2 separate regions of the Homo sapiens genome follow, and region 2 is linked to region 1. Evidence: fine-mapped QTL for protein levels in blood plasma. A gene starts in region 1. The other region holds a variant in brackets. All regions are shown on one strand. Distances are from middle to middle.

The links. A credible set is the group of variants that fine-mapping cannot tell apart. PIP is the posterior inclusion probability: the model's chance that the variant is causal. Protein levels are from the aptamer-based SomaScan assay of Sun 2018.
Region 2: its variant is the best candidate, but not a certain one, in a credible set for the plasma level of the IL16 protein (Sun 2018, PIP 0.84).

Annotation. Positions count from the first base shown.
Region 1 is chr15:81,191,167-81,199,499 of GRCh38, reverse strand. IL16 (interleukin 16) reads right to left here and starts at 2,621. Exons shown (of 19, transcript NM_172217.5): 1 at 2,348-2,621.
Region 2 is chr15:81,303,707-81,312,039 of GRCh38, reverse strand. IL16 (interleukin 16) reads right to left here. Exons shown (of 19, transcript NM_172217.5): 17 at 5,874-6,132; 18 at 5,495-5,620; 19 at 1-3,435. The coding sequence ends at 3,242. STARD5 (StAR related lipid transfer domain containing 5) reads left to right here. Exons shown (of 6, transcript NM_181900.3): 6 at 1-2,987. Among named protein-coding and RNA genes, the nearest start is that of STARD5, 16 kb to the left of the region's middle. RefSeq lists a silencer at 3,309-3,486 and enhancers at 7,689-8,219, 7,604-8,333. The variant A/C (reference allele first, on the strand shown) is at 3,930.

The sequences.
Region 1 (8,333 bases):
TTACCAGTTGCTCCCACTCAAAGCAAACCTCTCCTCCAGCATCTCCAGATGTGGCAAGAACAGCGCCTCCCTCCTGATGGGCTCCGCCCTTCCACCCAACGTCCTTCACATCCACCTGAGACATCCACTGAGACTTCTCAGTGTTTCTGGCACACACTGAGCAACACTGTCTAGTTTACAAGACTGACATAGATTCGTCCTTATTTCAACAGGAATTCAAAAGAAGAACTTGAAGTAAATTCCTGATTTCAAGCTGCCTTCCTAGTTAACCACAACTCCAAGTTCTTGGAACTATTTGTTTATTTTGCCCCATGCCTATTTTCTCCCCGTGTTTATGAGCATATTGCTATTCACAATGAATTGCTTTTTAATAGCAAAACGTAACCTATATATGAAAATGTATTACCAATTCAAATGCACAATAAAAAATATGTATTTTATATATATATATATATATATATATATATATTTTTTTTTTTTGAGATGGAGTCTCCCTCTGTCACCCAGGCTGGAGTGCAGTGGCATGATCTCGGCTCACTGCAGTCTCCGCCTCCCGGGTTCAAGCAATTCTCCTGCCTCAGCCTCTTGAGTAGCTGGGATTACAGGCATGTGCCTCCACGCCTGGCTAATTTTTGTATTTTTAGTAGAAACAGGGTTTCACCATGTTGGCCAGCCTGGTCAGGAACTCCTGACCTCAAGTGATCCGCCCGCCTCGGCCTCTCAAATTGCTGGGATTACAGGCGTGAGCCACTGTACCTGGCCAGTAGATTTCAATTCAAAGTGTACCTCCCTCCCTCTCACTCCTATACCCCTGGGCCACTGCTGGGAACCAGAAAGGGGGAGGGGTTGACAAAAGGGCAGGTCTCAAGGTCCTGGTCTGCCTCTGCCAAAATAATTCTGCCTTAACTGATTATACATGAGTTTTCATGATAGATTTTAATTCTAAAAAGGTTTCCATGAATACAAACAATTAGAAAATAATAATTCTATAGTCAATTGCATCCAACAGAGATTATTTTTTAACCCTATGGATATATGACCATCTTTGTGTTGAGGAAACTCAAGTATTTATTGAGGCATGCCACAAAGCCAGTGAGAGCATGGATTTTGGAGTCAAGCTGGGTTTGGGTCCTGGGAACGTCTAGCTGAGTGGTCCTGTGCAAGCCTCCTCACCTCTCGGTTTGGGGATATACTCCCTAAGCTCCAGGTTGTTGTAAGGTTTAAATTAAATGAGGTATGTGAATATTTTAGCTTGGTGCCTGGGGCTTGAAGAGTGGCCAGGAAATGGTTGGGGTACTAAGTTTTATTTAAAAGACTCACTGGGGATTGAATAAATGAGCAGTAGAGGCTTCAAGGGTCTGACCCACCTGACGGCTCATGCCCACGTCATATCTGCAGCAGGGGAGGTGCCTTCTACTGTGCTCGTAAATGTTGACCATCACTTAACTTCAGGGTAAAGAAGGAGAACAGAGGAGGAAAAAGGCTGAACGGTCTTCTCCTTCCGGGGGAAACTGGAGAAATAGGAAGGGGAGCCACAGAGACGGCAGCTCCCAGGCTGCTTCCAGGAACCCAGTGGGAGCTTGAACTGGCCTCCTGGGACAAAGGGGTCGTCTTTGTATGGCTCAGCCTGAAGTGGGAGGATTTCACCTGATAAGGGCAGGAGGAGAAGATGCTTCCCTGTATTCCACAGGGAACCTCTATTCTTATGCTGTTACCTCATTCTCCAGCTACAGAAAGCAAACTTGCTATGGACCAAAAAAGAAAAAAACAAACAAACAAAAAACAAAAACAAAAAAACACCAATCCTGGGACCTACCAATGCAGGAATTAGTCACGGGACCCTTATCAAAAAGCAAGCAGAGTGAACACTTTTCCCATGGTCAATCTGCAGAGATGCCCACCCGCTGTGCCCACTTTGGAGAAAAGGAGTCTGGCCAGGCAGCAGAGAAGCCCCCATCAGGTGCCCCGTGGCCTTTCTCTCTCCTGCTGCCTTCCTTTCCTCCACCTCCTTCCACACCCCATTGCCAAGGATGAGACGAGGCTGAAAAGTCAGAAATCTCAGGACCAAATTCTCCCCGTGCTGCAGAGCCAGGTCAAGCGATATCCCTCTGCCCGCTCTGGCCTTCTGAAGCTGCTTCCTCCTGTACCTAACTGTGACATGGTGACACAGAGATTCCTACCAACACAATCCTGGCTTCTGCTCCTGCCCCTGACCCCAGCACCACTTCCAAATATGAAGTTACGTCCTAGCAACCAAGACCCTCCCCATTCAGGTCAGAGAGGCCAGCTTCCTCCCTCCGGTAACGGCCACCTGGACAGAGCAGCTGCCTGACAGACATTCACTCACCTGGTGCCCACCTACCTCCCTATGCACAGTCCCCCGGGGCTGCCATCTCCCTTGCTCCTCTCTCCATCTGCCCAGCAGGGATTGCAGCACCACTTATTCCCGGACAGCCTGTGGCCCAGGCCTGGGTCAGAGCCGGCAAGGATTGAGAAATGGACGCTCAGTTCTCAGACGGAGGCCGGCCTTTGAGTCAGATCCCAGGCTCCGATAGTTGAGATGCCGTGAGTAGGACACAATATTCACCACCTGCTCTGGACAGGTGACTCAGGACAAATGTGTCCCACCTGGCATGGATTTGCTCGAAGACTCCTGATCTGAGCCATCTGACTGCTCCACGTGAAAAGGCTTGATCCAAAAAGGGGGGCTGCCAGTGCTGAGAAGCTCAGCCTCAGAACAAGGTCCACCATCTGCTGGGCTGGCCGGCAACACCCAGGAGGCAAACCCAGTGCAGAGCCACAGAACCACAGTGAGGTTCCTTGGTCCAGCCCAGTTGCCCCTGCCTTCTTTGGACAACACAGAAATGACTAGGAGAGCCGAAAGGTAGCAGACATGACTCGGTGCCTGCAATGTGCCTGGCACGCTGCTAGGAGCTTTCTATAAACCTCATCACATGCTGGAAGCTGTGGCACGTGCCTATAATCCCAGCTACTCAGGAGGCTGAGGCAGAAGGATCACTTGAGCCGGGGGATTCAAGACAAGCCCGGGCAAACCATAGCAAGAACTCCTCTCAAATTATATAAAAATTTAATAAAAAGAGGAAAAAAGTCATCACATACAATCCTGCCATCAATCTGGTAAATATATCACCTGCTTTGCAGACAAAGAAAGCCACTGCACAAACGTTCATTAAACACCTACTACGTGCCGTGGAATTTCCCCAAGGTCACACAGTTAGCAAGTTAGCAAGTCAAAATCCACCTGTCTCCAAAGCCCAGGCTTTTTCCATAGCATTTCATTTCTTGTCTGTGCCACCCTTTCCCAAAAACAACAGACTGGCTCTCAGAAGCTTATGTAACTCAGTGGTCCTCAAGCCAGCTGCATCAGCAGCATCTGCTAGAAATGCAAGTTCTCAGGCCCTGGCCTAGACCTCCTGAAGCAGCACCTCTGGCACTCTGTTTTCACAAAGCCTCCAGGTGATTTTGGTGCGTGCTCAGGTGCGAGAGCCCATGACCTAACGTATACAGAGCATGTTGAAAACTGCAGCATAAAAGAATGGGGCACTTTTGTGTGTGTCCTGTTGGCATTAGTGTCATGAGACCAGAGTGCCTTTCCCCCACGTAGCCCCTTGGAGAATCTAATCATAAGGTGGCATTTAATCCATCTGCCCCGCAAAGAGCATCCCACACATCTCTCCTAAGCTCAGTCTCTGTGAGCCCTGTGTACATGCTAGGCTGAGGTTTTTGTATGGACCTCTCTTCTAAAGAATGGAATGTTTCCCAACGCTCAGCACCAAATGTTTCAGGGCTTCCTGGGGGCTTTAATGAGGGTGTAGGTGCAACCTGTAGGAAGCCCTTGAAATTCCATGCAAGGCTGCAAAGATCTAGCCGCTGCTGCTGGAGAACACAGGCCCACGGTCCCAAGGGAAGCACGGGAGGAGGGAGCACTCTGGGGATAAAGCTGCCTTTGTCAGCAGGCACAGGGGACATTGTAGGGCTGAGTCTGGAGTGAGTCTGGAGTGCAGTGAAGGAATTTCTAAATTGCAGAGAGTGAGCGCCTCTGTCAGTGTCGCCTGCTCAGCTCACACCCACAATCTCTCTCACAATGGCCTGGGTGCGGTGGGGCCAGGACAGACTCAGGCCCCACTTCCATCTTGCTCTGGCAGAGAGGCTGAGGAGCAATTCAGCACCCCAGGGCTATGGGGGCTGGCCTTGCCCTTCTTGGATCCTGAGGCCTGGGAGGGCCCCACAGCCCCCCTCCTCCACTAAGTCTAAGCTCTCTCTTGTCATCGGCACCTGAATCCAGTTCCCGCCTCTCCCTCTATTTTCCGAAGATCTGTTCTTTCTCACTCTCAGAAGGTAAATTTATTCCAAAGTGTAGTTGAGACTTGGCCCTGATTTTTCCTAATACGGGGTGGTTTGTGCTTCAAGGTGGAAATTTTATCACCCCTCTGCCCTTCAGGACATCCTGCAGAAAGAGTCTCCACCCTGCCCAACACTCCATAGTCCAGCTCACTGCAAGCCAGAAGAGACGGGGAGGAAGACGCAGGTGAGAGAGCCCCGCCCTGGTTAGAACTAGGAAGTTCAAGCACCACTTGAAGCTCAACCAAGAGCTTCCTGTGTGATCTTGGTCATTCACAGCCTTAGTTTGCTACGATGAAAATTAGATGAAATTAATTGTCTGCCAGATGAAATTAGAAACTTCTACTGCACAGTGTTACTGAGAGAATGAGGCAATAGAGGAGGAAGCATGCTGCCAACAGCTAACCAAGCAGAAGCCTGCTCACCTTTTTGGCCCTTCCAGCCCACGGAACTGAGAAATCTGTTCAACAAGTGATTCTGATGCTTGCTAAAGTTTCATAATCAATAACCTGTATTTCCTTCTAATTCTCCTATTTTTTAATTACAAAATTTTATTTCCAAAAGTAAATTTTTAATTACAAAAATTTTAATTACAAAATTAAAATTATAAATTTTGAAAAATTAATTTAAAAAATTTTAATTTTAAAAATTCTAATTTAATTTTTAAAAATTAAAATTACAATTACAAATTTAAATTTAATTTAAAAAATTAAAATTACAAAAATTTTTAATTTCAAAATTTTAGTTATAAAAGTAATACATGTTTGTTGTGGCAAGTAAACATATTCAGAAGGCAAAAAGAAAGTGTGTCCTTAAAATGACACAACAGGGTCATCTCCTATTCTGTTCAAACAATGGCAAAATAAAGAGCTTAGGGTCAGAGCAATAAGCCCCAGCTTCTGTACTAAGCGGCTCTGTCAACTGCAAGTCCTTTTACCTTACTGAGTCTCAGTTTCCATGTCCACAAAATGGAAACAATAACCCAATAATCTGACAGGGCTGCTCAGAGGTCTGAGCAAAGAGCTGTCCTGCAATCTATAAAATGCCTTGGGAATTCTTTATGCTGTACACTTTTGGTCATGCGAACTGTATTATCATGAGCAGAATATAATTTAACAATTTTAACTAGTAATGTAACAATTTTAACTAGTAATGTAACATGACGCAGAATATAATTTAACAATTTTAACTAGTAATGTAACAATTTTAACTAGTAATGTAATGTTACTAGTAATGTAACCTGACAGTAATGGACATGATGATAATAAATTCTCTCTGCATTTAGCACTTTCAACTTAGACAGAATGTTGAGGCCAAAACTTGATGATTTTATTGTACGTCCCCACTTACGGATGCAAACACTGAGACTCAGAGAAGTTACATGTCCAAAAAGTGCACGTCCAAGGCTGTGCAGTCAGAAGCCATTGGTCCCTTGATTCCCGCTCCCCGGCTCTCTTCCCCTCTTTCCCTGGCCCACAGCAACATATAGATTCAAACCAAGGGTTTTAACTTCATACGAAAATTCTAGCTGACTTCCATGTAGACCATGCTGCCCTCTCTCTGGCCTTTTTTTCTTTCAAACTGTCCATCAGGCTTGCATCCTTTCAAAGTAATATTCCATCACTAAGATACTTACAATCACGACAAGCAACTGAAGCCAGTCCACAAGCAAATATACCACGCACATGCCAACAACTCCCAAATTCACTTCTCCAGGCCTGGACTTCTCCTTGAATTCTGACTCTTTTTTCCTACCACTTGCTTAACATCTTCAGCTGGGGTTTAACTTAAATTTCAAAAGTAACATTGCCTGGCTGTTATTCAGTGAGGCAAAAAAAAGGAACACTGCCAACAGTACTCTTGATTCCCCCCCTAATAAAATGTTTCTTCCCTAAACTTCCACATTTTGGTAATTGTCACTAGCATCCATCAATTTCCCAAGCCAAAATCCTCAGTATCAAGGTGGGAAGAACATAGCACAGGCTCTGAAGCCAAAATTCCTGGGTTCATCTCGCAGGTCTGTCCCTGCCCAAGTGCATGATCATAGGCAGGCAAAAAGGCACTTCTCTGTGGACTGGTTTTGTCATCTATAGGCTGGCTAGTGCACTAACATCCACCTCACAAGGTTTGTTTGGGCTAAATATGGTAATACTTGTAAGGTTCTTAGAACAGTGCCTGCCAGAATAAGCCCTCTGTGAGTTTTTATTCATCTTGATCCCTCCATCTCTCTAACCTTCCACATCACATCCAATTTATCAGTGATTCTCGTTGGCTCTATCCCCAGAAGCTATCCCACTTTCTTTCCGCTTCTCTCCATCTTCACTGCCGCCACCCTCCTCTTACCAGTGCCTCTTGTCTGATTATAGCTTTCACCTTCTAACTGGGATTCTGGTTCCTATGCAGACCTTCATAATCCATTTTTCACATAATAGCAGGTAGGCTTTTTGAAAATATAAATTGGATCAGCATAAAATTTGCAAGGGCTTTGAATTACTTTTAAAAACTGTTTTTTGTTTGTTTGTTTGTTTTTGAGACAGCATCTTGCTCTGTGGCCCAGGCTGCAGGGTAGTGGTATGATCATAGCTAACTGCAGCCTTAAACTCCTGGCTCAAGCAATCCTCCAGCCTCAGCCTCCCGAGTAGCTAGGACAACAAGCACATGCCACCACATTTGGCTATTTTTTCTTTTTTCTTTTTTTTTGTAGAGACACGGTCTCTCTGTGTTGCCCAGGCTGGTCTTGAACTCCTGGCCTCAAGCAGTCCTCCTTCCTTGGCCTCCCAAAGTGCTGGGATTATAGGCATGAGCCACTGCACCCAACCACTTTTTTAAAAATTTAATAAACTTTATTGTTCTGAGCAGTTTTAGCTTTACAGAAATATTGCATAGAAAGTACAGAACTCCCGAATACTGATCTCCCTCTCCACACACACAATTTCCCATACTATTAACATCTTGCATTGGCGTGGTACCTTTTTACAATTGATAAATCAATACTGATACATGATTATTAGCTAAAGTTCATGGCTTACGTGATGGTTCACCCATTGTGTTGTGCAGTTCTATGGGTTCTGACAAGTGCATAGCGTTATGGATCTACCACTGTAGTATCAGACAGAGAGATATATTTACTGCCCCAAAAATGCCCTGTGCTCCACCCCTTCCAAAGGCTTTGCGTTGTTTTCCAAAATAATACCCAAATTCCTTACAGTGTCCCAAAGGAGCTAAATGATCTCACCCTTGTTTATCTCCCAAACTCCAGCTTCCACCTCTGCCTCTCCTGCTCGCTGCATCCCACAGCCACCCTGGCCTTCTGGCTCTTTCTTGAATAAGCCATGCCCTTGTCACCCTAAGACTTCTGCCCTAGCTGTTTTCTCTTACAGGAAAGTTCCACTTCCAGATCTTCATATGGCTGGCTCTTCCCTGACTCCATCTCCTAAGTGGGATCTTTCTTGACCACTCAACCTAAACCAGGCACTCACCGTTACCTCTCCTTATTTTATTTTCTTCATAGAACTTGCCAGCATTTGAAGCTGTCTTGTTAGTCTGCTTGGGTACTTACATACCACCCATCCGCCCCATCTAGGTCCCACACAGGGACCTCATCAGCCTGTTCACTGTGGGGTCCCCAGCACTAGAGCATGCCTGGCCCATAAAGGGTTGATAAACATTTACTGAGTGAATCAATGCATAAATGAATGAATAAATGACTAATGCCATGTAATGAGTTTCTACATTTGTTTGTAGTTTTCAGTTTACAAAGAGCTCTTCCAGACATTTCCTTAGCGTAATTTATGTGATTAGGCCCAGGTTTAAATGGAACTTAAAAAACATATTCACAGTATCTCTCTTAGCTCCTAGAAGCCACAGATTAGGAAACAGAATGTTCTCTCCAAGGGAAGAGAGTTTAGTTCCAAGAGCATTCATGACCCTCCGGTTATGACAAGAAGAATCACTTGGTTTAATTCATGGCT
Region 2 (8,333 bases), 110 kb before region 1:
CACAGTGTTCTCAGCCTTTGCTCCTCCAAACAGAAAACGTTTCCCCTGCGTTACTGTTACTTCCCTATTTTTGAGTCCTGGGGTGACTGTCTCTTAAATGTGCCAAGATGTGAGCAAGCTTTAAAACATGACAGCTCAGTGTTAAGGAGACAGAAAGCTTCCTCTTTCTCTGTTCTATTGCAACTACAAATTCTACAGTCATGCCTAAGATCCTTTAGCTAACACCCTTTTCAAGAAATCATCAGACTCTTGGATTGACTTAGAATTCATTCATTCATTAAGTGCTTACCGAGTCCCCGCTCTGTGGCAAGCACTGTTCTATATCAACTTCTCATGAGTTCAGCCAATTCTAGGTGCACCAGCCAAGGAAACTTCATGCCTGCCCTCTCTGAGCTCCATACTCTGAGGTGGTGGTCTTATCAAGATGGGATCGCCTTGTACATCCCTGTGTAGCCAAGTGGAAGGCCAGCCAACCAAGAATGCATCTCACTGGGCCTATGGGACATACTGTGCCTGCACTGCTCCTCCACGTGACTGCATCAGGTTAAACTGGTCAGAGCCCTGGATGAGGAGCTGGAAAACATGCATCCAGTCCAAGCTCTGCCACTTGGGCCAAGTGTGCTCTTGAACAGTCACTTAATATATCTGCTTTGATTTGTCTTTTAAAGAAAATATGGAGGCAGGAATACCAGTGTCAGTGTAGCCTGCTTCTTGAGTGTTGGCACAAGTGAGATAATGTATGAATCAGTAAAATGCTGGGCAAAGCAAAGAAGTAGGGCTGCCTGGGAGTGGATTCCTTTTTATGGTGAGTTAAGACGACTTCACAATTGTTAGCTGTGATGCCTGCAGTGTTTGAGGATGGCATTGCCTTCATCCTGTGTCAGCTCTGAAGAAGTTGGCAGAGCAAAGCTAAGCCTCAAGTGTAAATCCCAGCATCATGGAACGCAAATGGATGAGCTTTTGTTTTAGGATCTTCTTGCTGATTCCTACCCAGAGGACTTCCCCAGCCTAGAGACCAGAAACCTGGGCAATAGTTATATCTTCAGTGGCCCTAGGAGTTGTTGTGTCTCCTTGGGGAGGAGAGAACCTTCTAAAACAGGCCAGAGACAGGAGGTACTGGGAGGGCCATGGGCTCACCTGCATCTATGCCCAGATAACCTGGGACAGATAACCTCTGTCCCAATCACTTGCTTTGCCTGGTCTCTCAAGGAGTCTCTTGGTACCCCAGGCCCACGGCCAGCTCCATGCTCATCCCTGTCCCCACCTTCCAGTCTTGATGAAAACCCACCTTCTCTTTCATCCCTTGGCTGCTTGATAAGACTTAAAACAATTCCCTGATTTTAGGGAAGGCCACTGCGTGCACAGATGGTGAGTTTGTGCAGGCAAGGAATGTGCCCTCCACATCACGTGGCCTCCTTGCCCAGCCTGGGTCATGGGAAGGGAGTGTTGAATTGAATCACGTCTTTCGTTGGTAGATTATGTTCATCTTCAATGTTTCTATTAAGTCTAAAAAGTGGATACAAATGGTGCCTCCAAGTTCTTGTCTAATTGCTTGTCTACTGCTTGACAAAATCCAGAATGGAATAGGCCAAACAAGTTAACCAGCAGGACAGAAACTGCTCTAAGCCCATTATTCCTTGAGATGAATAGAACAGTGAGCTGAACGCCTGCTCTAATGAAGCCACTAAAGGGGTTTACAGGAAGGTTAGGAGCCCAGATGGGTTTTGAGTCCACTGCTGGGAAACAGATTCTTCACTTCCTGTGGACCCTGGAGAAGCCATCAGATTACATTAACATGGCTCCACTGATGATGGCCTGAGAATTACTATTGTTTGTGTTTCATCTGTGTCCTTGCCAGGTCTTCCCCCACATCCTTACTTCACAGGATCAGGGGCTGAGAGGAGACCAATACTCTGGCCCAGGCCTGGTCAAGGGATGCTGGTTGTTGCTGATGCAAAGTCACATTGCCTGGTCCTGAGCTTGGCAATCAGGCATCCAGAGATGGCCAAACCAAATATCCCTTTGGCCAGGCACTCAGGCATTCCCTGTAATGTTGTGCACTTAAAGCATCTTGGGCTGATAGTCTCCACCGAATCACAGAAGAAAACTCAATCTGCCGCATCACTCACCAGCTGGATAAGCCATTTACTGTACACAGTGTGTGCCCTCTTATCAATACATTGGCACAGAACCATACACCGTAGAAGCTGCTGTGATCACTAAAGGCAATGCCCGTTTAGCCCTGAGCACAGTGCTTGGCATGTGGTAGGTAAGTAGTAGCAATTTTATTTGATACCCTCATATACACGCTGGTTCCTTCTGTCGGCACACCTGTCCACGCTTTGAGCTTGGTGCTTCACCTGTACTCCTCTGTTTACTGGCTCCACCACCCTTCCCTAGGATTACTTCTCCAATCCAACCAAAAACAATTTTGCAAATGTTTCATGTGACAAACTGTATTTTTCATAAATGACCCCAGCAATATTTCCTCTCCCCTTAAACCCAGGCAGGTTTGTGTCAGCTCTAACTGATGGAGTATGGTGGAGGTGATGCCATGCAACTTCCAAGGCAAAGGTATAAACAAGATGCAGCTTCTACATGGCTCTTGCGATCCTGGGATGCTCATCCTGGGAATCCAGACACCATGTTGTGAGGAGGCCCAGGCCACAAGGAGAGGCCACCTATAAGCATTCAGGCCAGCAGCCCCAGGTGAGTTCCCAGCCAACATCAACGGCCAGATGTATGAGTGAATGATCTCACGTGGTCCCAGCCTTTGCATGACTTTGCATGACGCCAGCTGATGCCAAGTGGGACAGAGATGAGCTGCCCATTCCAATCTCTGCCCACATTGCAGATTCATGAGAAAAATAAATGTCACTGTTTGGGGGTGAATCATGACACAGTTACAGTACTTGAAACATTTTGCGAAGCCAGGCATGAATGTCATATGAAATTCTAATAAATCCATTTTATTTGTGGCACCACAATATTATCATTAAGCTCTCTTTTTACACAGTCTGCAATTTGTATCAGCTGCCCCCGTGTGACTCTGCCCTTATTTTAGGAACAACCTTTTGCTGGGTGGCGTCCTAGAAGGTCTGGGCCTGGGCAGCAGCCACTGGGAAGCCCACCTGTGCTTTCCCCCATCTGGGTGGGGCGGCAGCAGAGACCCTGAGAATCAGCGGTTATGGGAGCTGTGTGTTAGCTGTGTGTTATTGGCTTTGGCTTCAGCATGTCCTGCCTAGGAGTCTCCAGCAGCTGTGGTTTCCTTGGACTGGAGGCTTTTTCTCCTGATGACAATCGTGACAGGTCCATCAGGCAGTGCCTTGATGATGTTCCAGGCTTCAAACCGTGTGAGGCCCTGCATGGCAGTGCCACCCAGCTGTAAGATTTCATCTCCAGGCTGGACTGTCTCACTTTGTTCTGAGGCTGCTCCTGAAATGAGGGAGAAGGTAATGGGTTCCACAGATGATGGGGAACAAGGAAAGTTGCCTCCTCTCCTTGATCTCCAAAGAGCCAGGATAGCTTGGTAGAGAACAGGGCACCATCCCTTGGGAGCTTGCTTGTTGGTGGTTCTAAAATGAGGCATCTCTTAAGATGGTGACTCAGAGGTTAGGGCACCAGGCTCCAGCTCTCCATGGCCTTTGGAAAGGGATAGCCCTTGCTGTCCCCAGGGGAGGGAAATATCAGGCAGCTCCACGCCTTAGCCTGCCTGGAGCACCGTCCATAGTTCATAGAGGACTCTGGGGAGCTGAGTCCTGCCCAGACCCTGCTTTGGACACTGACCCAATATCCTACTCCCTTCACATTTGTTCTCCGCATGTGGTGAGGACATCAGCATTGGGTGGTATGGGAAGAGAGCTAGTGAGATTTTTGTGCAACAATATTTACAGGGATCTTGCCTCTGGCACGAAGTCCTCTGTGTCCAC[A/C]TAAAAAAGGAAACAACCATATATGGCCCCCACTATTTCAAAGCTGCAAGTGAAAACAATGCTATTTTACTGTTTATATTAAAATAAAATTTCCCATCCATTTGACACAGTGATCTTCACAAATCCTGATAAGAGTAGAAGATAATACTAATGATAGTAATGAAAATATAGCTAAAGTGTATTGGGCAATTATTTTAACAGGCGTTGTGCTAATGTTTTGCATTTATGACAGTAATCCTATGAGGGGTGTATTATTTGTGTTTCCTTTTAACAGCTGAGGAAACCAAGAACTCAAGTAACTGGCCCAGAGCTTCATAGCTGCTAGTGGTGGGCCCTGGGCTGGAACCCAGACTTTCTGGCTCCAGAATCTGCATCTCTCCTTCCAACATCACCCTGCAGCTGGCAGTCTCATCCTAAACATTTAAGCAAATGGGCCCATGGTGGTGAAGTGACTTGTCCAAGATCATGCTACCAAGGTCATGTGGCAGAACTAACACTGGAATCTAGTCCTCTTGACATTGAACCCAATGCTCCTTCCAAATTGACCTTCAAAAATTAGAAATATCTTTCCCAGAATTGGGGTTAACATGGATTCTGGGGGGAATGCCATGTAAGCCTCACTCTACCTTCTGGGTTTCTGCAGCCGCAGCAGAACTTCCTCTAACGAAACCAGTCAGCAGCAGGAGCTCATAGTGGGTGAGGGACAGAGCTAAGAGTCCCTTTGGGTCTCAGTCCTAAGAGCCCTCAGACACACACCTGTACCTCTTTACCTCCTTTTATGGATGAAGAGCCTCAGGCCCAGAAGGGAAGGGTCACTCAGCACATTACAGGCAGAGCTGGGACTAGAACCTGGCCCACCTGCCTCCCTGTCCAGTACTCCTCTCTCTACAACCCCTTGCTCTGTGGCTTGGAGACCTCCAATTTGAGGAACACCAAAGAATCAGGGATGGTTTTACATGGTAGCCACAGTCATTCATGATTTTCACAGGGAAATCCAAGTGACCCCCATATCAGACTGGTTTGTACTCCAATCCCTGATGAACAAAATATCTATCAACATTTTAAATAAAGGCAGGAGCTGACGTGTCCAGGACTAGGGTAAGGCAAATGAGGCCAAGTGTGCAGTACAAAGTCAGACTCTGTCTTGATTTAAACTTGGATATTTTGTCCAACATGTTTTTTTAAAATTAATTTTAAAAAACACGCTGCATTAAAATAGTATCGATCTGAGTTACTGAGTGTTTTGGCACCCCTTTAAAATTCTGCCCCACAGGCCAGTGCCTCACTGCCCCACTCTAGAGTCCTGGCCCTGCCAACCCGAACCAAGCCCAGGACTTAGGTATTTTTGAAGACCCATCAAAACAGAGGGGGGATTGAGGGGATGTCTGAGCAAAGGAGAAAAAGTAGAAAAAGCAGAATTGAGCCCTAAAAGGACCAGCATGCCTATGAAGAGGACATGGAGTTGTGGGAAACAACATAGCCCAGAAAGTGCCCAGAAGCCTTTTGGGGGCCTGGCCACATGCCCACAACTGGAGAGCACGCAAAGAACCAGACACACCCCACACCTTTGAAAATCCTGTTAATGGTGAGAGGCTTGTCTCCGTGTAGGGAGCCCTTCCCTCCTTCCAGGCTGAAGCCCAGCCCTGCCGACATCTTCTCCAGTGTCACCGTGCAGACTGTGGCCTCTGCTGCTGAGAAAAACACAAGGTCTCTGTTAGGGATCCTCTCCTCTCCCAGGCCACAGATGCCCTGGGCTTCAAGTGAGCCCGGGGTGATACAGCCCCCGTGTTTGCACACAGGCACATGTAAACACGTCTCAGGCAGTGTACTAGGCAGCCACACATTCTTGGGGTCACAAATTACTGAGTAGCCCCATCAGGTCTGGCCCCAAATGGCCAAAGAGGATGTGGCCCATGTGGCTTCCACTGAGTTGGGAGAACTTACTAGATTCTACAGAAACATCACTGGCTGCAGAGGCTGAGGCTGCAGAGTCAGTGGAGGAGTTGAGGTCGGGCATGGCCTCTGGAGTCAGCTTCCTTGTGACAATCACAGCTTGCCTGGGCTCTCGAGCTTGGCGGAGGATGGCCAAGGCATCATGGTGCGTGGTCCCCTTGAGAGACTTGCCGTTGATGGAAAGAACCTCATTGCCCTTCTGAATAGTCCCTTCCTGGGAGGCCAGCCCATTTGGAAACACTCTGTGAACCTGAGCAAACCAAAGGAAGTCAGGACCAGAAATCACACAAGTCCAGTCCACATACTTGCTGGAGGAGGATTGAACCGGTTAGTCAATGCTAGAGGATTTTTAGGCCAACAAAGATTAAAGATAATTGTGTCCTAGATTGGAGCTGCTGGCACAGAGGCCAGCATTCCCTCCTTCTCCATCCAGAGCAGAGATCACCAGCAGTAATGACCAGGTAAGCCCTCAGAATCCATCCCAACACAACGTCCTATAGTGTACCACCACGATTCTAGTTGGGATTCCATATAAAATCTTTTGCTTCACCTGCCCTAGGTCAGAAGTCCCCAGAGTAGTTTTCTCAAGGCACTGATTCTATGGCATATTAACGGGTATTGTGTAAGAAAAAGGCTTTTCCTATTATTTTTTAAAAAATAGAGACAGGGTCTCCCAGTGTTGCCCAGGATGGTCTCAAACTCCTGGGCTCAAGCAATCCTCTCACCTTGGCCCCGCACAGTGTTGGAATTACAGGTATGAGCCACCACACCCGGCCAAGAAAAATTTTTTAAAATCAAAGAAACTTGAGGAATACTGGGTGAAACAAAAGCTCTGACATTGTCTACTTTTAAAAAGCAAAAGGCATTAGAGGGTCTACAATGCAAATTTGCATGGCAGCAGATTTCTAAGCAAAAGGCATTTAGAGGGTCTACAATGCAAATCTGCATGGCAGATTTCTAAGTATTGGCAGGGTATTATGGGGATTCCCAAAGTGTTTCAACAAAGAATTCTTTTCTCATAGAGAAATTCTCGGTCTCATTTGGCAGAATGCATTTTGAGAAACACTCTCCTAGGCAGTCTAGACATTTTTATAGCTCCTCCCCTAGAAATTCTGACTCTTTACCTCCAGTCACCTCTTGGTCCCCTTTCTGCAAGATATGTGGGATAAACAAACACACAAAAATATCTCATGTCTCTGCCTCAGCCTCTTTAATGAGGTCCATTATAATTAAGAGGACTGAGTGATAGCATGCATGGAAACCACTAAAATGTGGTACCTGTAGTTTTGCTTTTATGATAGGAGCAAAGCTCTTTGCTTCTCTAAATTGTTTTGGTGTTAGAAAAATTCTGTTACATGGTTAGAATCCCCAGGCTGTAACATCCAAGCATGAAGCAGAACCTCTCCTCTGAGCCTCAGGTTCCTCAATGCTAGAGGATTTTTAGGCCAACGAAGATTAAAGTTAATTAAAGGAGGAACCTCAGGTTCCTCCTCTATAAAAGAAGCATAAATGCCACCAATTTATCAATCCAAAGTGTGGGTAGGATGAATTTAGACAACAGGTCAGTGAGTGCTCAGCATGGCCGTGGATGGTGCTCTACGTTAGTTCCCTTTTAATCATCTGGAAAGGAAGAGAAATGCTCAAACACAGAAGGAGAAAGAAGCTTTTGTGCATGTGCTCAGCCAACATGTGCGCCTTCCTCCTAGTTTCCTGTTGTCTGCAGTGTCTCAAGGGTGACTGGCCAGATGACGTGGACAGAAGTTGCTACTCATGGACAGAGAAAAATACCCAAAGTGCCATTCCCACAGGCAAGCTCTCTTTCCTCCTCTTCAAGTAGAAAGTAAACTACACGGTCAGGAATCTTTTTGTAATACTCAGCTGCACTCAGTGAGAGAAATAGAGACTTACAGGTTTTAAGTGTTTTTTATGTGATAGAAAACTTATCAGGAAATCAAGGAAGTCACCACTGACATGATTGACTCTGAAGTGACACGCAGGAACATGCCAGATTGCCACTGCAAGGGGGTGTGGTATGTTGAATGCTGGCTGATGCTGTGAACTGGAGGATTTGTTTTCAGTTGGGCATGGAAATTCAAATGAGCCCAGCACAGCCTACACAAAGGATACCCTGAGACAACACAGCCCTGGGATGACAGCAATGCACTCGGCTTTAGAGAGCGAGCAGCCGCAGCATGGCTCCACAAAACTGGCAGAACCAGAAACCATCTGGGTCAGGTACAGGTGACCTGAAGGCAGCAGCCAATGCTGATCAGATTGGATGAGCCAGAATAGTGGGACCCACAGGAAAAGATGCCCATGGCCAGGCCTGCTACCCTCTCCACGCAGCCCCAGGCTCTGGGATGTGCTGAGTGGACAGGACCTGCCCAGTGGCCTAGTGTCATGCATTCTTCATTTCCCCAGCACAGGGCCCCTTCCTGGCAAGTGTGTCCC